Homo sapiens: one gene and its partners. The protein of the gene in region 3 interacts with the protein of the main gene of each other region in a pairwise test. Each region holds a gene or a part of one and is shown on either strand. Other genes may lie near its edges.

Region 1 (3,665 bases), on a different chromosome or scaffold from region 3:
GGATAACAAAGAATGAAATGTTTCAGAAGAGAAAATACTGGAAATCTTATTTAGTCCAATTCTTGTCACTGTATAGAAGGAAAATGAGCCCCAGTGGGAAGAAAGACAGCCTGGTCACCCAGACACCTAGATTCCTGGTACAACATACCTTAGTCTTTACCAGCTGTCTCCTAGGTAGAGTCCTTCTAATCTCAAACTAAGGGTCAGAGCTAGGTTATCTTTCATCCAAGATGAAGGTTTGTGATAATTACATCTTTGCAACTTCTTTTCTACTTGGCATGGGGCTCTAAAGTAGGAAAATGATGAAGGGTTTAGCTAAACCTGGAGGAAAAATATTTTGGTTTTGTGAAATAACAATGCAGATTTCAGTCTCTGTTTGCAATGGGGGGAAGGAGGAAGAGGCATTTTTTAACATTTATTTTCTAAACCAACAAACAAATCCTACCATTAGTCAAAGACTCAGGTCTTTGGAATCTGAAGCTTGTAAATTTCAGGGGCACTCTTTAAGAAGAAGAATACAAAATTAAGAATAAAGTGAATATAAAATTAAGAATAAAGTGAATATTTATTTAGAATTAAAATGGCATACAGGCCGGGTGCAGTGGCTTACACCTGTAATCCTAACACTTTGGGAGGCAGAGGTGGACAGGTTCCTCTGAGCCCCAGTGTTCAAGACCAGACTTGGTACATAGTAAGACACCATCTCTACAAAAATTAAAAAACAACAAAAAACAAAAAACTGGCCGGTCTTGGTGGTGCATGCCTTTAGTCCGAGCTACTCTAGAGGACTGCTTGAACCTAGGACTCCAAGGCTGCAGTGAGTTATGATTATGCAACTGCTTTCCAGACTGAGTGACAGAATGAGATCTCATCTCTGGAAAAAAAATTTTAAATAGTATCATACAAACAACAAATTTTTAAAAGCTATAAATACTACAAATATGAAGTGTTTAAAAAACAAATATTTTTATTAACTGATTGCCATACCTCTGAAATAATTCTCCTATATTTTTTGGTTGCACACTCTTTGATCATCTCTTCCAATAACATTTTGCAATATTCTCTATTGAGAGAATAGAAAAATAATTCAGTCTTCCCTTTAGAAATGTAGATCAGAATTTGTAATTTATTCTTGAATAATTTGGAAAAGTTCCTTTCAGCTTCATAATTCATTACAGGTAATGTCATATAAATTTTTTGGATTGACTTCAAATTTGGAAAACTTTTATCAGGTTTCTTTTATATGTGAGCTGTAAGATTCAGGGCACTGCAAGATTTCGTAGTATTTGACTTGATGACACTTGTTAACCACATTGCCAGGGCCTCTCCTAGAGCCAGGAGATGGACCTATACCAGGGTATAGGTAGCCTTGAAGGTTAAGTTCAAGCACTTCACAGTAAATCCACCTGAGCCTGGCATTTATATCCTCAACATATTTGATGCATCTGTGAAGTCTCCCAGTCCTTTCAAATAAAGTGCCTGTTTTACTCAGAATACCTAAACTTCCTGATGGCATAATTGTTCCATGATTCAGCCAAGACTGTATCACTTGAGGTATACACTTCATTTTTCCATTGAGATCACAAGACAGGCATGATGTTTGACTACCTGGTGTATAAACCGAGTGTTATTTTATTACACTAAGAAAATGCAATGGGATAATATATGAAGAATGCTAAAACACTAGAAAAATGTTGGATATTATTATTTCTCTTAACCTCTAGTCTTCCAACACCCATGCTATAATGGACAAGTAGTTTATGTCAATTAAGGCAGACTAGTCTCAGTACAGTATAACAATTAGGAATCTAGATCCCCAAACCAGACCATCTTGGTTCCAACCCCAGCCTAATCATTTTCTAACTAGGTGGACTTAGGCAAATTTATTGACTCTGGAGGATTTATAATAAGCATAATATAACCTACCTTCTAAAGTTGTTTTGAGGGTTAATACACCTGAAGTACTCAGCATGATCCGTGCAGTAGCAAGACCTCAATAAGTGGTAGCTACTATGATTATTGGGAAATTAGTCCATGAAGTCTCTTGAGAAAAGCTACAGGGGAAATAAGCCCAATTTCATTTCCCTATGTAGAAAAGTTTGCAGGATTTGGGCGTGACAGGTAGTCATCCACAAAGCAGCAGTGTTATCGCCCCATAGGAAATGAAGACTTCGTAATGATTTATACTTTAATAAAGAGCTGCTGCAGCATATACTGAAAATATGCACCCAACCCATATCTTCTTTCAAAGGCATTCATGTTGGTTCAACCAAATCCCTAGTTCTCTAAAATGAAGTTTTGACAATCTTATATCTTCTAAAGCACTGAGAAGCCTTTTTCCTTGTTTTCTTTAAAGAGGCTTGAGAAGAACCAAGCCTTTTTTTGGTTCAAATAAAATATTTACAATAGGAGGAAAAAACATTCAGATAAACTTCACCTTGCCCGCCTGGTGGTCTCTCAATACACAGAAGAAATGCAACTAGGGCACTAGGAAATCTAAAAAAAAAAAAAAAAAAAGGAAAGAAAAAAAGTATAGAGCTAAAGTTCACTTCAGGACAACGCAAACTAAGAAAAACTACATTTCCCAAAGGAAATAGAGCACTATGTCTACAAAGTAACTCATTTTTTCTTTAATGTTCAATGTTGTCTATTCCAGGGAAAAAATGGTACAATTAACCAAAACTTATTTCTACCCAACATCTCTGCAAAGGAATGTTGCTGCTGCAGATCCACCCCCAACATGGGAAGGCCCAAGGCAAGTGAGCAAATAGAGGCCCATGTACCATAAGTCAAAACATTTAAAGTTACAAATCAAGCTAGCAAACTGCTCAATAAAATAGGTGTTATCCTTCTACCTAGACTGACAAATATATCTTTTCAATGTCTTGGAAGACCAGGTACAACTTTAGAACTCCTACAATGTTCATAGTCCTTCCACAGAAATGGGTGGTTTAAAGAGAGACATCATCCTGAGCCCTGGTAATCAATTTGCCTTCCTCCCCCCTGCCTGCTCCATCCTACATCAAGAGGGGCCTTGTGATATGTGGACACCCAAGCTCGCTCTCTGTCTCTCTCTCTCTTTCTCTCTCTCTCTCTCTCTCTCTCTCACATACAGACACACACACACACAGAGCTATCCCTTAAACAACCCTCGTGCAGAGATTGCACAACCAGTAGCAATGACAGCCTTCAGGAAGATGGCTTCAAGGATCCATGCAAACTGCAGATACCAGTTCAGGGCCTTCTGGACAGCGAATGTGGGTTCCCACATAACCAAATCATGGTCTAAAAATGAAAAGAGAGTAAGACTGGAAGGCCCAAAAGTCACCTCACCCCATAGGCATGGCTCTGACCAGAGAAGAATGACAGCAGAGTACCATCTAAGGCCCAGGACAGAGGCCAGTTGTGTTCATATACTAGGTCTATATTTTAGTTGTAGAGCTGAAAAAAATTGGAGGAAAATATTCCCTCAGAAAAGAGAAGAAAAAAAAAAAAAAAAAAGAGCTGCATGTCTTGACCTTTCCCAGATAGAATCTCCCCAGTCATAGGTACGGGCCCTGAAGCTAAATCTCATCTAATAATGATAGCTTCAAACCTACAAACAAAACACAGATGCTAGGGAACCCTTAAGAGTCTAAGCAGGAGGCCATAAGTAGACTAAACTG
Region 2 (3,751 bases), on a different chromosome or scaffold from region 3:
CTGAGTTCCAAGTCCCAGCTCCATCACGGAACTTGGCCCAAGGCCCTTAACCCCTCTGGGCCTCAGTTTTGTCATCTTTGAAATGGGGATCTTAGAGATGCCTACCTGTCAAGGGACTTGTGAGGCGCAACGGGACCACACGCAGGGCCTGGCCAGAGTGCCGTAGTTTCTTCGGTTGCCATGATGGGACGGTGAAACTCCTCACACTCTTCTTTCTGCCTTGAAGATTCTAGACCTGGCTGGGTGTTCATCTCCCTTTTTGCCTTTGCTTGAGGCAGTTTATGGCATGGCTGTGTTATTCACGTCGCCAGGTCTCCTCCTGGTGGACGTTGAGGCCATTTTCATTTTTTTACTCTTAAAAACGACAGGGCAGTGCGCATCTTCGCATCTCCGGGGTGGGTCAGGTCTCTGACCTCTTTGCCAGTGTGACTTATTACCCCTTTCTTTCTTTGTTTTTCTTTTTGAGACAGTGTCTTGCTCTGTCGCCAGGCTGGAATGCAGTGGTGTGATCATAGATCATAGCTCACTGCAACCTCCAGCTCCTGGCTCAAATGATCCTCCCACTTCAGCCGATATTAATCCATTTTCATGCTGCTGATAAAGACGTATTTGAGACCGGGCAATTTACAAAAGAAAGAGGTTTAATGGAGTTACAGTTCCACACAGCTGGGCTGGGGAAGCCCCACAATCATGGCAGAAGGCAAGGAGGAGCAAGTCACATCTTATACGGATGGCAGCTGGCAAAGAGAGTGAGAGAGCTTCTGCAGGGAAACTCCTGTTTTTAAAACCATCAGATCTCGTGAGACTTATTCTCTATCACGAGAATAGCACGGGAAAGACCCACCCCCATGATTCATTGATCTCCCACTGGGTCCCTGCTACAACACAAGGGAATTATGGGAGCTACAAGATGAGATTTGGGTGGGGACACAGAGCCAGACCATATCAGCCTCCCAAGTAGCTGGAACTACAGGTGTGCGCCAACATGCCTGGCTAATTTTTTAAATTTCTGTAGAGACGGGGTCTCACTGTGTCACCCAGGCCGGTCTTGAACTCCTGGGCTCAAGTGATCCACCCTCCTCGGCGTCCCACAGTGCTGGATAATAGGCGTGAGCCACTGTGCCCAGCCATTTCCCCCTTATTTTTAGCATCACTACAGTAGCTGTGATCTCTGAGCTTTGGGGATATCCCCTCCCCAACATTTTACTCTGAAAATTCGAACATCTGGAAACGTCAAGGCTTTGTACAGTGGACACCTGTGTACTCGGCAGCCACCTTCCGTGATGAACATGCCTTATATTTGCTTTGTCCTCAATCTGTGATTCGGGACTGGATTTCTCTTGTTTCCTGGTGGGACCCACACTGCTTGTCAATTACTTATTTTGTTCCCCTTCATCCCAGTCTTGCTGTGACTTTCAGATACCCCCGGGTCTTATATACACTCAGGGTTATACCCAGAAAACATTTCTCCTGGGGGATTTGTCTCTAGGTAGGGGGCCCTCTTGAATAGTCAGGGGGAGAAAGAAAGACTCAAGACCAGCTCTGAGGAGGCGGCAGGGGTGCCCCTTCCCTCTACCTTGTGGGCTCCTTGGGGAAGAAGGACAAGTGAGTGCCATGAGAAATACCCCTGGGGATTTTGTGGAGCTGGAATGTGCTGGTGGACCATGAATCCACAAGGACTTGGGCATCGAACTCCCTTGACTGGGACCCACAGCAAGGGAGGCTCTGCAGCATCACCTTAATCAAATGGACTCACCCTCTCTGGGTGATGTATCCTGGTGCTTCCTCTTCTGTTCATCAGTCAATCAACAAATAAATGGCTGGGCGTGGAGGCATATGCCTGTAATCCCAGAAACTTTGGTCATTGGTTATGTCTACCTGTTTATTTTTGGGGGAGGGGGATTCATAATATGTCATGACGTATATTAACAGTTTGCAAAGTGCCACATGGGAACGTAATCTTCAGGATCTGGAAAGAGGCTCAGTCTATTCAGTCTATAGGAACCCCCGCCTCCCCCAAGACCCTTGTCATGAGAACGAATCTTTCACTCCCAAATTCCTAGAGTGACGATGATTGGGTCATTATTTTCTTTTTTATTTTATTTTATTTTATTTTATTTATTTTTTTATTTTTTTGAGATGGAGTCTTCTCTGTCTCCCAGGCTAGAGTGCAGTGGCGCAATCTCGGCTCACTACAACCTCCGCCTCCCGGGTTCAAGCAATTATCCTGCCTCAGCCTCCTGAGTAGCTGAGACTACAGGCATGTGCCACCATGCCAGGCTAATTTTTTGTATTTTTAGTAGAGACAGGGTTTCACCATGTTAGTGAGGATGGTCTGAATCTCCTGACCTTGTGATCTGCCCACCTCTGCCTCCCAAAGTGCTGGGATTACAGGCGTGAGCTACTGTGCCCAGCCTGGGTCATTACTTTCATTCAACAAAGCATTTCTCCCCGCAGTCCATGCGCACCCTGCCCACAGCTCTTTCTCATTTTCAGCATCTCTCTTCCCTTTCTAGAACATGCCGAGTTTTTGCACTGCAAGTCCAAAAAGTTTACAGACTTTGATGAAGTCCGGCAGGAGATTGAAGCAGAGACCGACAGGGTCACGGGGACCAACAAAGGCATCTCCCCAGTGCCCATCAACCTTCGAGTCTACTCGCCACACGGTAGGCAGCACGGGTGGGGACCCATCACTGACCGTTTCTGGTCGTTCATGGACAGTGCTATGGGTGAGCCTGTGTACTTCCACTCATGGGTATCATGTGCCCATTCACAAACAGTTGATATTCACACACACATAGCCCCTTGATCTGTATCTTCCCACTTGTGCTAGGTATGTAGTACCCAGACCTCTGTCTCAGCTTGAAGAAAGAGCATGCCAAGAAGTTGTTTGGAGTGGTGGGGGATTGCAGCCATTTCCCCCTTTTACCAAGGGCAGCCACCACTTGGCTCAAGGCAGCCAGATCTGCTGGTGCCTCAAGAGAGGCCAGAACCAGTCTTCTGTAAAATATCCTGGGTTTTTTTTTTTTTTTTTTGAGACAGAGTCTTGCTCTGTTGCCCAGTCTGGGGTTCAGTGGTGTGATCTCTGCTCGCTGCAACCTCCACCTCCCAGGTTCAAGCAATTATTGTGCCTCAGCCGCCCAAGTAGCTGGGATTACAGGCATGCACCACTACACCCAGCTAATTTTTTTTTTTTTTTTTTTGAGATGGAGTCTCGCTCTGTCGCCCAGACTGGAGTACAGTGGTGTGATCTCAGCTCACTGCAGTCTCCGCCTCCCAGGTTCAAGCTATTCTCCTGCCTCAGCCTCCCAAGTAGCTAGGACTAGAGGCAACTGCCGCCACGCCTGGCAAATTTTTTGTATTTTTAGTAGAGATGGGATTTCACCATATTGGCCAGGCTTGTCTCAAACTCCCGACCTTGTGATCTGCCCACTTTGGCCTCCCAAAATGCTGGGATTACAGACGTGAGCCGCCGCGCCCGGCCAAATTTTTTTTTTTTTTTTTGAGACAGAGTCTCGCTCTGTTGCCCAGGCTGGAGTGTAGTGGCGCAATCTCCACTCAATGCAACCTTCACCTCCCGGGTTCAAGCAATTCTCTGGCCTCAGCCTCCCGAGTAGCTGGGATTACAGGTGTGTACCACCCTGCCTGGCTAATTTTTTTTTTATTTTTTATTTTTTTTATTTTTAGTAGAGACGGGGTTTCACCATGTTGCACAGGCTGGTCTCGAACTCCTGAGCTCAGGCAATCCACC
Region 3 (3,751 bases):
AGGCTTGTGCTGGAGGCGGAACACATCGCCCCTGCAGCCTGGCACTGGCCATGGGACATGGGAGGTAGGGGGAGGCGTGTTCCAGCCTATGTTGGCCGGTGGGCAGGTGCTCAGACTCAGCAAGCTCCTTGGGGTCATTCATCACCCCTCCACCCATTCATCCTCAAACACCTGCAGAGGGCTTCCTCTGCCAGGCTGTCAGGCGCCAAGGGCACAGAAATGAGAACTGACAGTCCACTGGGGGAGACGGTCTTCGCATGGTCTTGCCCTCAGTGTAAGGCACAAGAGTGGTGCAAGGGGGCCTAACCAGGCCCCCAGGGTAAATACGGGTTGCGGGGCTGTCTGGGGGAATGGGGAAGAAGAGCATTCTGGGCTGGGGGCTCCACAGGCTCAACACAGCTGGAGTGAGCCACAACAGTGAATCACGAGAAATGAGGCTGGAAAGGCCAGTGGGAACCATGGTCCTGGAGGTGGGCATTGGGTGGGGAGCTGTGCTTCAAGCTGAGGGCAGGATTTTCAGCACAGATGACTGTGTTCTGAAAGATCCCTGTGGGAAGAGTGAGGAGAGGGGTGAGCAGCAGCCAAGACTGGAGGCAGGAGGACCAAGCAGCGGGTTGTGGCCACGTTTCAGGTCTGGAGTCACCCAGGAGAGATTCTGATCATATGGGTCTATGGTGTGACGTGGGAGGTGGAAGTTTCCAGGACAACTCCCAGGCTCCTCAAAATAACAATTTTTTTTTTTTTTTGAGACAGAGTCTCGCTGTGTCACCCAGACTGGAGTGTAGTGGCGCGATCTTAGCTCACTGCAAGCTCCGCCTCCCAGGTTCACGCCATTCTCCTGCCTCAGCCTCTGGAGTAGCTGGGACTACAGGTGCCCGCCACCACGCCCAGATAATTTTTTTTTTTTTGTATTTTTTAGTAGAGATGGGGTTTCACCGTGTTAGCCAGGATGGTCTCAATCTCCTGACCTTGTGATCCACCCGCCTCAGCCTCCCAAAGTGCTGGGATTACAGGCGAGAGCCACCGCGCCTGGCCCAAAATAAGAATTTTTTTTTTTTTTTTGAGATGGAGTCTTGCTCTGTTGCCCAGGCTGGAGTGCAGTGGTGCGATCTCGGCTCACTGCAAGCTCCACCTCCCAGGTTCACGCCATTCTCCTGCCTCAGCCTCCCGAGTTGCTGGGACTACAGGCGCCCACCACCATGCCTGGCTAATTTTTTGTATTTTTAGTAGAGATGTGGTTTCACCATGTTAGCCAGGATGGTCTCGATCTCCTGACCCGTGATCTGCCCGCCTCGGCCTCCCAAAGTGCTGGGATTACAGGCGTGAGCCACCACACCTGGCCCAAAATAAGAATTTTTAATAGAATACCACGTATTAATTTCTCTGCTTCATGCAGACAAATGAAGAGAAAAAGTATTTCCAAGATTATAAGAACAAGTTTGGGCATTGTTTGTTTGAGACAGGGACTCCCTCTGTTGCCCGGGCTGGAGTACAGTGGTGTGATCACAGCTGACTGCAGCCTCAATCTTTTGGGTTCAAGTGATCCTCCTGCCTTAGCCTCCGAGTAATTGGAACTATAGGCATTAGCCATCGCACCTAGCTAATTTTTTTATTTTTTAAATTTTTTGTAGAGATGGGGGTCCCACTATGTTGTCCAGGCTGGTCTGGAACTCCTGGGGCCACTGCACAGCTATACTGTCTGACAAGCACACATGGCAATAACCAAACCAGACTGCCTGATGCAGACTGAGGGCAGTGCTTTCGAGGTCACACTCCTAGACCCTGGGCTGGAGCAAAGAGAAAAGGAGACAGTGGTTAAGGGACCTCACAAACAACCTACCACTTGACCCCACGATGCACACAAGGAAGGGGTGCAGGTGTCTGCACTCCCATGCAGACGTGCTCTCATTCAAACAATCAGAATTGGCTTTCTGGGAGGAAACATGCTGAGGGGGCAGCTGGGTTTTAAGCTTTTTGTTGTATCCTGGCTCTCACACAGCTGCCTCCACTCTGTCATCTGGTGTCTGAGTGCCTCACGCCTGCCTGAGGCAGTGCCCAGCTGATGGCAGTCCCCCAGCTCTAATGACCCTGTCCCATGGGTGTGACCACAGGGACTGTTGCTGTGCCAGGTCAGGTTGGCTGCAGGCACTTACATGCGCTTCCCACTCAATCCTTCAGCTACAGTGAAAGAGAGTGCCCGTAAGAACGGCCGCAGGTCTCCTGGGCTAGAAACACCCCCAGAAAGCAGCTTACCTCACCAGAAGCGTTTCACATTTGGAAATTAAGATAAGGAACACAGAACTGATTGTTTCCTTCCTTCCTTCCTTCCCTCCCTCCTTCCTCTTTTTTTTTTTTTTTTTTTTTGATACAAGGCCTGGCTCTATCACCCAGGCTGGAGTGCAGTGGCACGATCTCAGATCACTGTAACCTCTGCCTCCTGGGCTCAGGTCATCCTCCCACCTTAGCCTCCAGAGTAGCTGGGACTACAGGTGTGCACCACCATGCCTGGCTAATTTTTGTATTTTTTGTAGAGACACGGTTTTGCCATGTTGCCCAGGCTGGTCTGGAACTCCTGAGCTCAAGCGATACGTCTTCCTCAGCCTCCCAAAGTGCTGGATTATAGGGGTGAGCCACCAAGCAGAATAGTTTCTTTTTTCCTTTTCTTTTTTTTGAAACAGAATCTCATTCTATTGCCCAGGCTGGAGTGTAATGGTGCGATCTCGGCCACTGCAACATCCCCGTCCCAGGTTCAAGCAATTCTTGTGCCTCAGCCGCCTGAGTGGTTGGGATTACAGGCGCCCACCACCACACCCAGCTAATTTTTTTTTTTTTTTTTTTTTTTTGAGATGGAGTCTCGCTCTGTCTCCAGGCTGGAGTGCAGCGGTGTGATCTCGGCACACTGCAACTCCCACCTCCCAGGTTCAAGCGATACTCCTGCCTCAGCCTCCGGAGTAGCTGGGACTACAGGCACATGCCACCACGCCAAGCTAGTTTTTGTATTTTTAGTAGAGATGGGGCTTCACCATGTTGGCCAGGCTGGTCTCGATCTCTTGACCTCGTGATCCACCCGCCTCGGCCTCCCAAAGTACTGGGATTACAGGCGTGAGCCACTGTGACTGGCCTAATTTTTGTATTTTTAGAAGGGATGGGGTTTCACCATGTTAGCCAGGCTGCTCTTGAACTCTCGACCTCAGGTGATCCGCCTACCTCGGCCTCCCAAAGTGTTGGGATTACAGGTGTGAGTCACCGTGCCTTGCCCAGAACAAGTTTTAAGAACTTGTTTTCTTAAAACAAGCTTTTACTTCAATAGGAAAGTATTAAAGACAAAATAAAAGAAAAAAAAATTTATAAAATAAAACAAGCTTTATGGAGGCAGAACACACAAAGCTCTTTGTTGAAATATGCTCTGAATAATAAAAAGTAAATATTTAATAAAAGTTGCTGGTGCCTGTAATTCCAGCTTCTTGGGAGGCTGAGGAGGGAGGTTTGCTCAAGGCCCGGAGTTTGAGACCAGCCTGGGCAACACAGTTAGACCCCGGCGGGGGCAGGGGAGTGAGTTTCTGGGTGGCCTCTCACCCCAGGGTGCACCTTACAATGACCACGAGGTGCCAGGAACCAGGGTTGGTTTGGCATCCACACAGGGTCAAAAAAATTTAATGGATCTTTGTTCTCTGAAAGGGAACAGGAAGGTAAACACAGGCTGCCACTATTTTTGTTCAGTAACTGGAAAGGCTGCTCTCATTTGATCTCC

What was found.
Region 1: the proteins of ARFGAP3 (region 3) and TGFBR2 interact in binary tests that used the Homo sapiens proteins (3 or more experiments, as listed by UniProt).
Region 2: the proteins of ARFGAP3 (region 3) and DNM2 interact in binary tests that used the Homo sapiens proteins (3 or more experiments, as listed by UniProt).

What each region holds. Positions count from the first base shown.
Region 1 is NC_000003.12:30,612,968-30,616,632, reverse strand, and holds part of TGFBR2 (TGF-beta receptor type-2 isoform B precursor), read right to left. Parts: exon of another isoform or gene 1,973-3,665; coding exon of another isoform or gene 1,927-1,972; intron 1-1,926. UniProt on the Homo sapiens protein: Transmembrane serine/threonine kinase forming with the TGF-beta type I serine/threonine kinase receptor, TGFBR1, the non-promiscuous receptor for the TGF-beta cytokines TGFB1, TGFB2 and TGFB3.
Region 2 is NC_000019.10:10,769,963-10,773,713, forward strand, and holds part of DNM2 (dynamin-2), read left to right. Parts: intron 1-2,516; coding exon 2,517-2,666; intron 2,667-3,751. UniProt on the Homo sapiens protein: Catalyzes the hydrolysis of GTP and utilizes this energy to mediate vesicle scission at plasma membrane during endocytosis and filament remodeling at many actin structures during organization of the actin cytoskeleton.
Region 3 is NC_000022.11:42,801,558-42,805,308, forward strand, and holds part of ARFGAP3 (ADP-ribosylation factor GTPase-activating protein 3), read right to left. Parts: intron 1-3,751.